Linked DNA regions of Homo sapiens. The protein of the gene in region 1 purifies or fractionates together with the protein of each later gene. This does not show direct contact. Each region holds a gene or a part of one and is shown in the gene's direction. Other genes may lie near its edges.

Region 1 (7,031 bases):
GAGGCTTGAAACCATCATTCTCAGCAAACTAACACAGGGACAGAAAACTAAACACCGCATGTTCTCACACATAAGTGGGAGTTGAACAATGAGAACATATGGACACAGGGAGAGGAACATCACACACCAGGGCCTGTCAGGGGGTGGGGGGCTAGAGGAGGGAGAGCATTAGGAGAAATACCTAATGTAGATGACGGGTTGATGGGTGCAGCAAACCACCATGGCCCATGTATACCTATGTAACAAACCTGCACATTCTGCACATGTATCCCAGAACTCAAAGTATCAAAAAAGACAAAGTTTATAAAGATTTGCCCTATGGCAAGTGATGTCAGCCGTGTTTGGTGTCATGGTAGGTTTGATATGTTACTCATTTTTTTCTTTTACACTTTCAAATAAACTCATAGCAAACATTAATATATCCATAAATATTCATCTATGTTCCACCTAAAATTCTTATGTACTACTAGTGATAGACTACACTTTGAGACATACTGCTCAAATTAATTTAAAAATAATTTTCTTTCAGAGTACGGAAGAAACCAAAGGTGGAGGGCAGGGTAAAATATATTCTAGACTTATGGTTGAGACTGCCACTGATGTTGCTCATCTTAGTTAAGATGTTTAATTGTCGCTTTCATTTCAATGCCCATTGTAATGACCGAAAGATCTATAAAGGGTGAAAACCTGGAGAACCTAGAAAGTTTCCATCTGGCATCTATATGCCAGAAACTTGGAGGGTTCTCTGAAAGATAAAAACATGATGGAGAGAAATCACAGCAACTTGTGTTTCATGTCAAGCCAAGGGCAAGCCTGTCCAGCAGGGTCTGGAGGCTAGGGCACTCTGAGTTGGGGACTCTAAGTTGGGGGATCAATATTCTAGAGGAATTCCAGAGAGCACATAACTTGCTGAATATAACTTAGGATGGAGACTTGGGCCTCAGTGTGCTACTGTCAGCCAACACTTACTTCAGATGGTGTGCTGAATCGAGTGGCAACAAGGACAGCAAATTGACGAAGGGGAACACTGAGCAAACAAACAGCAATATGGAACTAAAGTCTTGTCAAGGTCCCTTCCATCTGTAGCTCCCTTCTCATGTCATGTAGGACAGAGGGTTCTCTGATCTGGCAAAATGTGCCTAGCAACATTAATCTCATTTCTTGTCCTTGTGCTGGAAGCACTCTCCCAGGCCCTTTGTTCAGCCAGCTACTTCTAGTCTTTTTTTTTTTTCCACTTAAATATCATCTCCTCAGAGAGACTGGCTCCCATTTAAAGTAGCCCCCCTCCTTTATTCTGTATCAGTATCCACTTTTCTTCATAGCACTCATTACAATTTGTAATTACTTAATTTGTTAGTGGTCTGTCTTCTCCACTGCATTGTAGTAAGCTCCATGAGGGCAGGGATCTTGTCTGACTTGTTCACTGATATATCCTCAAAACACAGAATATAGTGGGTGTTCAATAATGAGTAAGCATTAGTAGAAAACAAGCAGGACAAAATGGATTATGTTTAATATTGTCAAGGTGTAATATATAGTGAAGATAAAATTGTCATGATTGAATATGCACTATTGGAATATATGAAACAAATAGTTTTAGAAATTTAAGTAGAAATCGTCAAAACCACAATCATGGTGAGATACTTTAATATTTATCTTTTAGTCCTTGACAGAAAAATAAAGATACAGAGCATTTGCATAATATAATTTAGCTTGATTTAACATTTATAATAGAGTTCATTGTGAGAGTACACATTCAAATGTATGTGTATGGAAGTTGCTCTCATTAAAATGAGAAAGAAGATATTATCATTGATATAAAGGAGATTTAAATATTACAAGTGAATAGTCTTATGATTCCATGCTAATAATTGCTTTGTAAATAGATGATTTCCTAGCAAAATAAAAATAACAAAATTAACTGTGACCATGAAGAAGCAAAAGATAAAGAACTACCCCTCTCCAAAAAATGAAGACTCAGACTTTTTCTGGATGAGTTTTCCCAAACCTTTAATGGATCAAATCATTCCTATATTGTTTCATCTGTTTTAGTCTAGAAAAGCAACAGGAAGCTTCCTAGGTTATTTTATGAATGAAACAGGTATAACTCTTATGCCAAAATTTACAGATGTAGCACACAAAAGAAAACTGCAGACACACTTCACTTAGGAATGTTGAATCATGAATCCTATATAAAACATTAGCACTTGTGGACTTTGTTCAAGAATGCAAGAATATTTTAATATTGGCAAATATATTAATAACATTCAATAATTAATAGGCAGGGGGAAATATCATCATGGCAGTAAATATTAAAAGGATTTGATAGAATCCCAGTTCTATCCCTGATTCAAAATGAAACAAAATAACAACAGAAAATTTGTAGAAAACTAAAACTAGAGAAATACATCCTTAATTTAATAAAGGGTATCTATCTTACACCAGCAGCCAACATTATACTTCATTATGAAATATTAGCACATTCCCATTAAAGTCAGGAATGACTCAAGAACGCCCATTATTATGGTTATTAATCAACATAGTTTAAACATTTCTAGGCAATACAGTGAAAGAAGAAAAATAATTCAGGTGTTAATATTGTAAAGAAAGGAGACAAAGTCATCTATATTTAGTGATAATATTATTGTCTATCTGGAATGAAACTGAAGAACAATGAGAACTAACGAGAGTTAACTAAGGGAGGAAGAAAATATATGTATAAAAATCAATAGCTCTCTTACATACCATCAATCCACTAGAAAATGTGGTGAAATGGATTATGTTCACAAAACAACAAAATATATATGATGCCTGGGAATAAATGTACTAAGAAAAGTGCAGGGCCTATCTGAATACAATGATAAACCTTATTCAGGGACATAAAAAGAGACTTGAATGAACAGAGAAACAAAACTACTTAGGTGAAAAAATTTTGTAACATTATCAATTCTCTCCAAATGAGTCTACATTTAATTGAATTCATGCCTAGCACGTGGGACACACAATAAATGATTTTTGAATGAATGATAAATAAGTGAACATAATTACCATAAAATTTAGAATTTTTTTTGACTTGACAAAACGATTTTAAGGTTCATCTAAAAAATTCTCAGAGCTGAAAATAAAATTTGATAGTAGAGACAATGAAAGGATTACCAGATCAGTTATTAAAACATAATGACATAAGATAGGCCGGGTGCAGTGGCTTACGGAGGCCTAGACAGGTGGATCACGATACCAGCCTGGGAAACATGGTGAAACCCCGTCTCTACTAAAAATACAAAAATTAGTTGAGCGTGATGGTGCATGCCTGTAATCTCAGCTACTCGGGAGGCCAAGGCACAAGAATCACTTGAACCAGGAAGGCGGAGGTTGCAGTGAGCTGAGATTGCGCCATTGCACTCCAGCCTGGGCAACAGAGCGATACTCTGTCTCAAAAAAAAAATAAAAGAAAAGATAAAATAAACAATAACATTAGTATTGGCACATGAATAGATAGGTTGGTGGAACAGAATAGAAAGTCAAGAAGCAGATCTATGACTATAAGGATATAGTAAGGATTTAGAATGTGATGATGTTATCTTAAGTATAACAGAAAAGGATGGATTTAATAAAGGGCCTTATGACTGCTGGAAAAATCGTATCCCTACTCCACAACACACTCCAAAATATACTCCAGGTGTATTAAATATTTAAATTTAAAAAGTACAACCATGAAAATGTTGGGAGTATTAGAGTATAGAATGCCTTTATAGAGGTAAAAATAATAAAGGAAGAGATTGATAGATTTAATTACATATAACATTTTAAGCTTCTGAGCTTCCCAAACACCATAAAAAAGTAAGGATAACCAATTACCTTGAAAAAAATATTTTAAATATGTGGCAGATTAAGAGTTAAGTTCTCTACTATGCAACACAATATGAAATATGTAAGCTCACTGATTATGAAAGTTGCAAATTAAAACAAAAGATATTTTGTTTTATTTTGGCCATCAAATTGGCAAATAATAAAAAATGGAGAGGTGTCAGAAAACTGGCACTTGCCTGTACTACTGGTAGAAGTGTATTTTAGGGTTGCCCTGCTGGAGGGTAATTTGGACATACTCAAGAGCCACCATGCCTTAAGAATTTATCTTAAGTAATTTTTCATGAATATTTGCAAATATATAAATATAAAGCTTCAGTGATAATCATTGCAAGCTAACGATAATGTAATGATAATCATTGCAGTGTTCTTTATAACATCAATAAATTGTAAACAGCCTAAATGTTTTCCTATGGAGAAATTGCTAACTGAGTTATAATAGAGCCATATAATGGAATTCTGTGACATTATTAAAGATAGTTTTGGGAAATATTTAATGCTATGGACAAATCTGTGTTATCCTCTTCTCTCATGTAGGAGGGAATTGTGTAAATAAGACTAAAAACCAGTTCTTTAAAATAGTGAGAAAGAAGGATAAGGAAGGTTTTACTGTATGTAAGGCCTTGATTTTTGTCAATATATATGTAAGCCAACATATTTTCCAAGACTTTCTGTGATGGGATCTGATTTAGTTGGAATACATACTGTTTTCAGCTCATCAGTTGATTAGGCCTCTTAATGCCATTTGTCAGAGGCAAGTTTACTATTGTAAATCAGCTTACAACAATGGCATGTGTCAGCCTATAGCTTAAGCATTTGTAAATTTAACACTTTTTCAGTTTCACAACAAAATTGCATTCTGATTATTAATGATGCTTAAGCTGTTATGAGATGAAAGTATATCTGTTAGCTATTTGACATTCTATAATTAATTTAAGCAAAGGTAATTACCATTCAAGGGTCATTGAAAGTGATAAATGCTTTATATGTTGGGATTAATAATTTTACTTCTTCTTAAGGGTCCTCATATTTTGTGCTTGCAAATGGACATATCCTGCCCAACAGTGAAAATGCTCATGGCCAATCTCTGGAAGAAGATTCCGCATTGGAAGCTTTGCTGAATTTTTTCTTTCCAACAAGTAAGTTCTTGTTTGATTTTTTTCCCCCTCTAATGTTCTTGTTTTGAAAACAGTAATTAAATGTTTAGGAAGCAGTGTGGTGTAATGGCACTGGAGTGGGACAGAGCTGAGTTTGAATCCTGGCTCTGCTCTTTGGCTTAGGCAAGACAATCTCTCTGAACCTCAGTGCCCTCATCTTTGAAATGAAGATATTTACCACAAAGAATTATGAGGATGAACTGAGATAATATTCATAAGGCATTTCATAAATGTTTGTTACTGTTTATAAAATACTTTTCCTTCGCAAATATCTAATCTTTCACAATTTGCCTGAATGGCATTGCCTGAAATTCAGTCACTGACCCAGTATTGTGAAATTGATGTCTTCTGTGGCATTAGTGAGGGTACTGTGTGACTGATGTTATGGAATATGCCAGATGTTTTCCCATCTGTTTTAATGATAGAAATCCCAGGTTTCAAGTCTCACTGTCTTTTTGTGATTCTGTATATAATGTGTTTATCAAGCACATTATGACCCCTGAGAATTATTAACCACAAATAAACACGTTTCATTTTGTATAGCATGTGGTGCCCTTTCAAGGAGAAGCTTCATATAAATTGGAATATGTGAAGTACAAAGATAAAGCTCTTATGAAAAATCATGCAGAATTTATTCTAACAAAATTTGATATACTCTATAAGCACAAAATTATATCTGTTCTTTGATTCCAGGCCTTTCCACTGAATTCTTTAGTGAACTTGAAAAAATCTCTTTATGTTTCTTTATACTTGTTACATTAAGTTTAAAACAGGCATCTACCAATGAGAATAGCAAAATAAACAAGTTCCTTAAATAAACTCAAAATACTGCCATGGTCAAATTGAGTAAATAAAAAAGAAATCTGAGACGGTGTTATGTCGTATAGGCTGAAAGAATGGTTTGAGTGCCACAGTTAGTCGTAAACAACAACTAATGATGATTTAAGCTTTAAAGCTTATGAAAACAACAGATGTAAACAGTCACATACTTACCTGTAATAACTACATTGTACAGACACTGAAGCCACCTGTAAAAATGGTTCGAAAAAGATATCTGCATTTCCCAAATATTTCTCCAACCTGGTGCAGGAAAGTAAGTCAAAATCAATTATATGAAGTAAAAATTTTGTCCAACAAAATAAAATTGTTCCATTTTAATAGAAACATCTGACCTAGGTTGATTCAAAAAGTGATTAAATATTTATCAAATGTACATACTGTCTTTGAAGACAATAACTACAGCTTCATAAAACGTGAAATATTTTTAACCAATTTATTTCTTCCCCCACATAATTGAAAATAAACACTCTTACCACTTAAGCATGAAAAAAAAGTTCGTTGTTTTGCCATTAGGCTACTATTTGTAAAATATTTATCTCTTGCAGATTAAAATGACAACCTTGATACACACTGGCAGGGAAGCTTGAGAGATCACCTGATCTTTCTCCCTTTGGACAAAATTACATACTTAAACCTGACAAAAAAAAATTGTTCTACCTTTTTGATTCTTTAAAATTACCAATGCCTCTTAGTAATTTGAGCTTGAAAGTTAATTTGTTTTTGTTTTTTTGAGACAGAGTCTCGCTCTGTTGCCAGGCTGGAGTGCAGTGGCACAATCTCGGCTCACTGCAACCTCTGCTTCCCAGGTTCAAGCAATTCTCCTACCTCAGCCTCCTGAGTAGCTGGGACTACAGGCACATGCCACCACGCCCAGCTAATTTTTGTATTTTTAGTAGAGACAGGTTTTCACCATGTTGGCCAGGACGGTCTCGATCTCTTGACCTCGTGATCCGCCCGCCTTGGGCTCCCAAAGTGCTGGGATTACAGGCACTAGCCATCGTGCCTGGCCTGTGTTAATTTTAATATCTAGCATAAAGTCCATCAGATGCACTTAAAGCAGAAATTAACAGATGATCTTAGAGATCATATAGTCTAGTCTCTTCTACGATTTAACCCTAACCCTAACCCTCTCTTTAGCATTTCTGGGAAGTGGTGTTTGAACAGTAC
Region 2 (7,031 bases), on another chromosome or scaffold:
GCAATGAATATTCTTTGAAACCCCAGCCTCAGGATGTTGTATCTAAGTACAAAACCCTTGCTCAGAAGCTGTATCAGCATGAAATCAACTTATTCAAAAGTAAGACGAATAGTCAAAAGGGAGCCTCTTCTACCTGGATGAAGGCAATTGTGTCATCGGGGACACTAGGTGACAGGATGGCAGCCATGATTCTTCTTATTCAGGATGATGCCGTTCACACACTTCAGTTTGTAGAAACTCTTGTGAACCTTGTTAAAAAGAAGGGCAGCAAACAGCAGTGCCTTATGGCCTTGGATACTTTCAAAGAGTTGCTTATCACAGACCTTTTGCCAGACAATCGGAAGCTGAGGATTTTCAGCCAGCGTCCTTTTGACAAACTGGAACAGTTGTCCAGTGGCAACAAGGACTCAAGAGATAGAAGACTGATATTATGGTATTTTGAACACCAGCTGAAACACTTAGTGGCTGAATTTGTGCAGGTCTTAGAAACTTTAAGTCATGATACATTAGTAACCACTAAAACTCGAGCCCTTACCGTGGCTCATGAGCTGCTTTGTAACAAGCCTGAGGAAGAAAAGGCTCTTCTTGTGCAAGTGGTAAATAAACTGGGAGATCCTCAGAACAGAATTGCCACAAAAGCATCCCATCTGTTAGAGACATTACTTTGTAAACATCCCAATATGAAAGGAGTTGTGTCTGGTGAAGTAGAAAGGCTACTCTTCCGCTCAAATATCAGCTCCAAAGCTCAATATTATGCAATTTGCTTTTTAAATCAAATGGCTCTGTCCCATGAAGAAAGTGAATTGGCTAACAAATTAATAACTGTTTACTTTTGCTTTTTTCGGACTTGTGTCAAAAAAAAAGATGTTGAATCAAAAATGCTTAGCGCCCTTTTAACAGGTGTGAATAGGGCATACCCTTATTCCCAGACTGGTGATGACAAAGTAAGGGAGCAGATTGACACACTGTTTAAAGTGTTGCATATTGTGAATTTTAATACCAGTGTCCAGGCTTTAATGTTGCTTTTCCAAGTAATGAATTCTCAGCAGACAATATCGGATCGATATTACACAGCATTATACAGGTAAGAACATACCCTTCCAATATGAGACATGAAATAATAACTTGATGTAGTACAGCACAAGCAGTGCCCTCTGTGGGGCAAGAAAAAGAGTTAGAAAATTTGGTTTTAGGCCCCCTCAGCAGCTTGCTACTCGCCACCTTCAAGTAAGTCACTTAATCTTTGTTTCCCTGATGGGCACAAATTATATTAGATGCTTTGAATACATTTTTCATTTTGAGAGGTTGTAAAATACAGAAAAATACCCAAAAGATTCATTCATATCTACCACCTAGTATTTCAGAATTAACATTTTGCTATATTTGTTTTAAATCTTTTGGGATATTAAAGAAATAAAATTGCAGATATAATTGCAGTTTCCGTCTTCCCATTCTCCTCAGTCCTCTATCTTTTCCCTGCTGTCTTTCACACAGTTGAATGCATTCACACAGTAACTCATTCAACAAGTATTTTCTGAGTGCCTGCAGTATGGTGCCATGCTCTAGGTGCACAGGAGGCACAGCGAACAGAAATCCCACCCCTGGAGGCGCTCACATTCATATTGGAGGAGGTGGCAGAGAGGGGAGCGGTGGTAAACAAAGTATGTTAAGTAGAGAGTTTTGGGGGATGCAGGGTGCAGGGTTTTTTTTGTTGTTGTTTTTTAATGGAGATGAAGATTTTCTTTACTGAATTTTGCAACTCACCCATTGAGGCATCATATTTTCAGCAATGTGTAAACAGTTTGGAGCTGTTTAAGAGACAGTCGAACATAGCAACTGTGTTCAAGAAATTAATATATTTCCTTCTGATTCATTTTTATATTTTTACATAGATATATCTTGTGAGAAAATGTGGAGTAGTGGTTCGTATCTTAGACTTAAGCCACGCCGCCTGGGTTTGAGTCCCTGCCATTAGTTTTCTGTGTAATTTTGGGCAAATTACTTGATCCCCACTAAAAACCTATTGGTAGACATAATTCATCCCATGTTATCATGCTTAAGTGGATTTGTCTGTAGGATGGAGAGAAAAGCAGCTATCTCATATGATTATTATGAAGATTTTGAAACTTGCACAAGGTTCTACAGCTTGTAAATGACAGAACTGGGGCTTTAATGAAGGTTGGGAGGTTATGTGTGTTAACCCATGTAATCTTTCTATGTATATTAAGTGCTTAACAGTGCCTAACACTTAGTGCTATGTGAAATGTTGGCGGCTATCCTTATTACTGATAGTCATCCATGTTTCTTTAGTTTAATCCTCTTAACAGCTCTCCAGTCTGTGATGTAGGGGTGGGTTGCCCCTACACACCTGTGGGTGTTTCTCGTAAGGTGGGACGAGAGATTTGGAAAAGAAAAAGACACAGAGACAAAGTATAGAGAAAGAAATAAGGGGAACCGGGGAACCAGCGTTCAGCATATGGAGGATCCCGCCAGCCTCTGAGTTCCCTTAGTATTTATTGATCATCTGTCGGTGTTTCTCGAAGAGGGGGATGTGTCAGGGTCACAAGACAATTGTGGGGAGAGGGTCAGCAGACAAACACGTGAACAAAGGTCTTTGCATCATAGACAATGTAAAGGATTAAGTGCTGTGCTTTTAGATATGCATACACATAAACATCTCAATGCTTTACAAAGCAGTATTGCTGCCCACAGGTCCCACCTCCAGCCCTAAGGCGGTTTTTCCCTATCTCAGTAGATGGAGCATACAATCGGGTTTTATACCGAGACATTCCATTGCCCAGGGACAGGCAGGAGACAGATGCCTTCCTCTTGTCTCAACTGCAAGAGGCATTCCTTCCTCTTTTACTAATCCTCCTCAGCACAGACCCTTTACGGGTGTCGGGCTGGGGGACGGTCAGGTCTTTCCCTTCCCACGAGGCCATATTTCAGACTATCACATGGGGAGAAACCTTGGACAATACCTGGCTTTCCTAGGCAGAGGTCCCTGCGGCCTTCCGCAGTTTTTGTGTCCCTGGGTACTTGAGATTAGGGAGTGGTGATGACTCTTAAGGAGCATGCTGCCTTCAAGCATCTGTTTAACAAAGCACATCTTGCACCGCCCTTAATCCATTCAACTCTGAGTGGACACAGCACATGTTTCAGAGAGCACGGGGTTGGGGGTAAGGTTATAGATTAACAGAATCTCAAGGCAGAAGAATTTTTCTTAGTACATAACAAAATGGAGTCTCCTATGTCTACTTCTTTCTACACAGACACAGTAACAATCTGATCTCTCTTCCTTTTCCCCACACTGTGAGATACAATAATTTGGGCAAGGTCACACAGATATTAAGAGACCAAGTTAGGTGGCAAGTCCAGGTCCACTTGCTGTAGATTTCATGACATTTCATAGCACTGATTGCTCTGGTCCACTAAAAAGACTCAGAAGCCTTTCCACAACTCTTTGAAGTAATAGATAACTTAACACTGTTAATTTGAAAAGAGTTCCAAGGCTGAAAATGTAGAGGTTTCGGGATCTTGAGTTTTGTTTTTGTTAGTTTGTTTGTTTGTTTGTTTGTTTGTTTGTTTTGAAGGGGGGTGGTTTCATTATTTTGAACTTTTGATGGTCATAGGAATTTTTGATTTTTAGAAAGTGTTTGAAATCTATTAGAAAACATTTTTCTGTCTCTATTTAACATCATAGTCTAACATCTCTGAGGAAGGGTGGATTTTTAAGTTTTTGAAATTACTATTTGCCAAAAGCGCTCACAGATGGAGTTTCTTAACAGGCCTTTAGGCCTTCTTAAAGTGTTTGTTTGCTCTTGGTTTTATTAGGAATCCTTCACATTAAGAAAACCCCTAGTTAATTGAGGGATAAAAGAAATGACATGATTTGGTTTACAAAAATATTTATCAAAACATTAGGAAAATATTTCATGAAATGATAGAGACATGTCTCTAAATTCTTCTCAGATGTTTCTGTTGATGTGAGATGTAATTTATGCCTAATAATAAATTGCAAAATGGATGGAAATGTTGGAAAATTTAAATGTAAAGAGGGAAAATTTAAATGTAAAGAGAGAAAATTGAATAATCCAGAATATCCCAGAATATTACCAAAAGGGTGATATTTCCCAGAGTATTCAGAGCAATAGGAAAGTGCTTCACAAGCTTAAGTATTTTTCATTTCTAGTGTTAGTAGGAAAAAATTAATGGAAATGCTTAAAACAAAGGAAGTAATGATTCCAGGTGTTAATAGAGCTAATCTGGAGGATTGTGTTAATTCTGGGTGTCCTAATATCTGCAGGTCTAGACCGGTTGGGGACATGTGTAGGATTCAGCACCTAGGATAGAGAATTTTTAAAGTATCATGAGATCAAAGTAGAGCAGCCTACAGAAGACAGACATTAGGGAGAGACAAGCACATAATAGCTAAATAGGTTCAAGTATTTGGAAAACTGTCATGTAAAGGTATTAACTGCCAGGCACTGGGGTTACAACAGTGAATAACAGGCATAATCCCTATTTCATTGGACCTTTAGAGAAGAGGGAAAGGCAGGAAAATCAAGTTTGTGAAACTATGAAGAACACAAACATGGGACTGAGAGACTAATAGAAGAACCAATTTTGGATACTGTGGACATGCAGAGAGTTGGAGAGAAGCACTCTGGGCAGTGAAAATAGCGTGTATGAGAGGAATGTTACACAGCTAGTACATTGGACTAGAGATTCTCTGAAGTCCTTAGAATTTAATTTTCTGCTGTTCATCGATGGTCTTCACTAAAATCATGAAGAGGCGGCCTCTGGTCCCCCTGCTAGTAGGTAGTTATACAAGGACAAAAACCCAAATCTTCTAATGTTCTGCTTTCATGGGTCAGTTTTCACTATCTGGTTTTAGATTAGCTTTTCTGGTGGGGTTCTGTAAATACTGTTAGGGCTGTGCCCTGTTGATATAGAAAACAGAAAAACACTTGGAAAAGACAAGAAAACCACACACTCAAAAATGCCTATTCCTGTGTCTGTTGCTGTTGGTTTTTCCTGGTGCCATCATCATCCTTTTCTGGTCATTGACTTCCATCTTACCTCTTAGGGCAGGGTCTCTTGTTCTAAAATAAGCAGCAAAGTTATCCCTAACTAAGATGAGGTTAGTAGCTATTTCTAATATGTGACCATTGGTTGTGGAGATGGTTTTATACATAAATATTTGACCTTGGTTTTGTTTTGCAGGAAGATGTTGGATCCAGGGTTGATGACGTGTTCCAAGCAAGCTATGTTTCTTAACCTTGTCTACAAATCTCTGAAAGCTGACATTGTGTTGCGCCGGGTGAAGGCTTTTGTGAAGAGGTTACTTCAAGTTACTTGTCAACAGATGCCACCATTTATATGTGGAGCTTTATATCTTGTGTCTGAGATCCTTAAAGCAAAACCAGGTTTAAGAAGCCAACTAGATGATCATCCGGTATATTTTACAACTGCTTTTTAAATTGAGTGGGTGCTGAAATATATTGGTTTTTGTTTTGTTTTTCTTTGCTTCAAATGACAGTAACCTAGTTCTCTGGAGCATATGAGTGTGAGTTCTGGAATAGGACAAACCTAGATTTTAGTACCAGCTGTACAGTTTACTAGGTGGGCATGTTGCTCAACTCTTCTACTTGCAATAAACTGTACTATACTAGAAGCTACCATTATATGAGATTTGGAAGACTATAAAACTTAGTAGACCTCTTAAGTCTTCTTCCTTAACAATGAAATGGAAATAATAGTACCTACCTCATAGGGTTATTTACAAGTCAGAAATTTACTTGAGGGCTAATTGTTTTCAAGTATTAGAGTCCTTAAGGCTCAGGGGTTCTTAGCTCAAAACTTAACTGTGTTATGTTTAGAAATAAGGATGTAATCTCCTCTCTTGTTTAAATACCATTGATAGCCATCATTTTACTTTATTAGAACTTTCACGTTTCACCAGAGTTGCAATAAGTAAAACTCTGCATCACATAATGGAGCACAGACTTTATTGCAACTTCCAGTTGATTTATGTAGATTTATGAAACTATACTTTTGTTAGGAGTCTGATGATGAAGAAAATTTTATTGATGCAAATGATGATGAAGACATGGAAAAATTCACTGATGCAGACAAAGAAACAGAGATAGTGAAAAAACTTGAGACAGAGGAAACAGTTCCTGAAACTGATGTAGAAACCAAAAAACCAGAGGTTGCTTCCTGGGTGCACTTTGATAATTTGAAAGGTGAGTTTTTTTCATCTTTATTCTCTAGGGAGTTTGTTTCTCTTTGATTTTCATAGAAAATAGCATTCTACCATTTTATTTACTTATTTATTTATTTAGACAGAGTCTCACTCTGTTGCCCAGGCTGGAATGCAGAGGCGTGATCTCGGCTCACTGCAACCTCCGCCTCCCAGGTTCAAGTGATTCTCCTGCCTCAACCTCCCAAGTAGCTGGGATTACAGGCATGTGCCACCACACCTGGCTAATTTTTGTATTTTTAGTAGAGGTGGAGTTTCACCATGTTCGCCAGGCTGGTCTCAAACTCCTGACCTCAGGTGATCTGCCTGCCTCAGCCTCCCAAAGTGCTGGGATTACAGGCGTGAGCCACTGTACCTGGCCCACAGTTTCTTAAAGTAATGTTTTAGGGATAGAAAACTTTCTGTTCAAGATAGAAACGTTAAGTGGTTTTCTATACACACACCAAACTAAATTAAAAGTCTATTAATAGAATGTTAGAGTCAAAAAAAAATCTTAGAAATGCAGCCCCTTCATTTGAGGCTGTGAAGAAAACACCAGCCTTGAGGTTCGAGAAATGTGGTGCCAGACCCATTTCTTCAGCTTGCTTTGGGACTCACAGTCAAATTAATTCATCTACAAATTTCAGTTTGTGAAGTACAAAAGAGAAGTCTGATAGCTGCCAGAAAAGTTTGAGAAGAATCCATCAGTTCCCCTGAAGACTAAACTGAGAATAATCCTTTAGAAGGATGAAGAGCTTGTGTGTTGGAAGGTAGTCAGTTCCTAGTT

The links.
Region 2: the proteins of FMR1NB (region 1) and CEBPZ purify together in Homo sapiens (affinity purification with mass spectrometry; 3 studies listed by BioGRID and IntAct, with this or other methods). This does not show direct contact.

The regions. Positions count from the first base shown.
Region 1 is NC_000023.11:147,998,315-148,005,345, forward strand, and holds part of FMR1NB (FMR1 neighbor protein), read left to right. Parts: intron 1-4,886; coding exon 4,887-5,006; intron 5,007-7,031.
Region 2 is NC_000002.12:37,221,597-37,228,627, reverse strand, and holds part of CEBPZ (CCAAT/enhancer-binding protein zeta), read left to right. Parts: coding exon 1-1,084; intron 1,085-5,226; coding exon 5,227-5,458; intron 5,459-6,064; coding exon 6,065-6,248; intron 6,249-7,031. UniProt on the Homo sapiens protein: Stimulates transcription from the HSP70 promoter.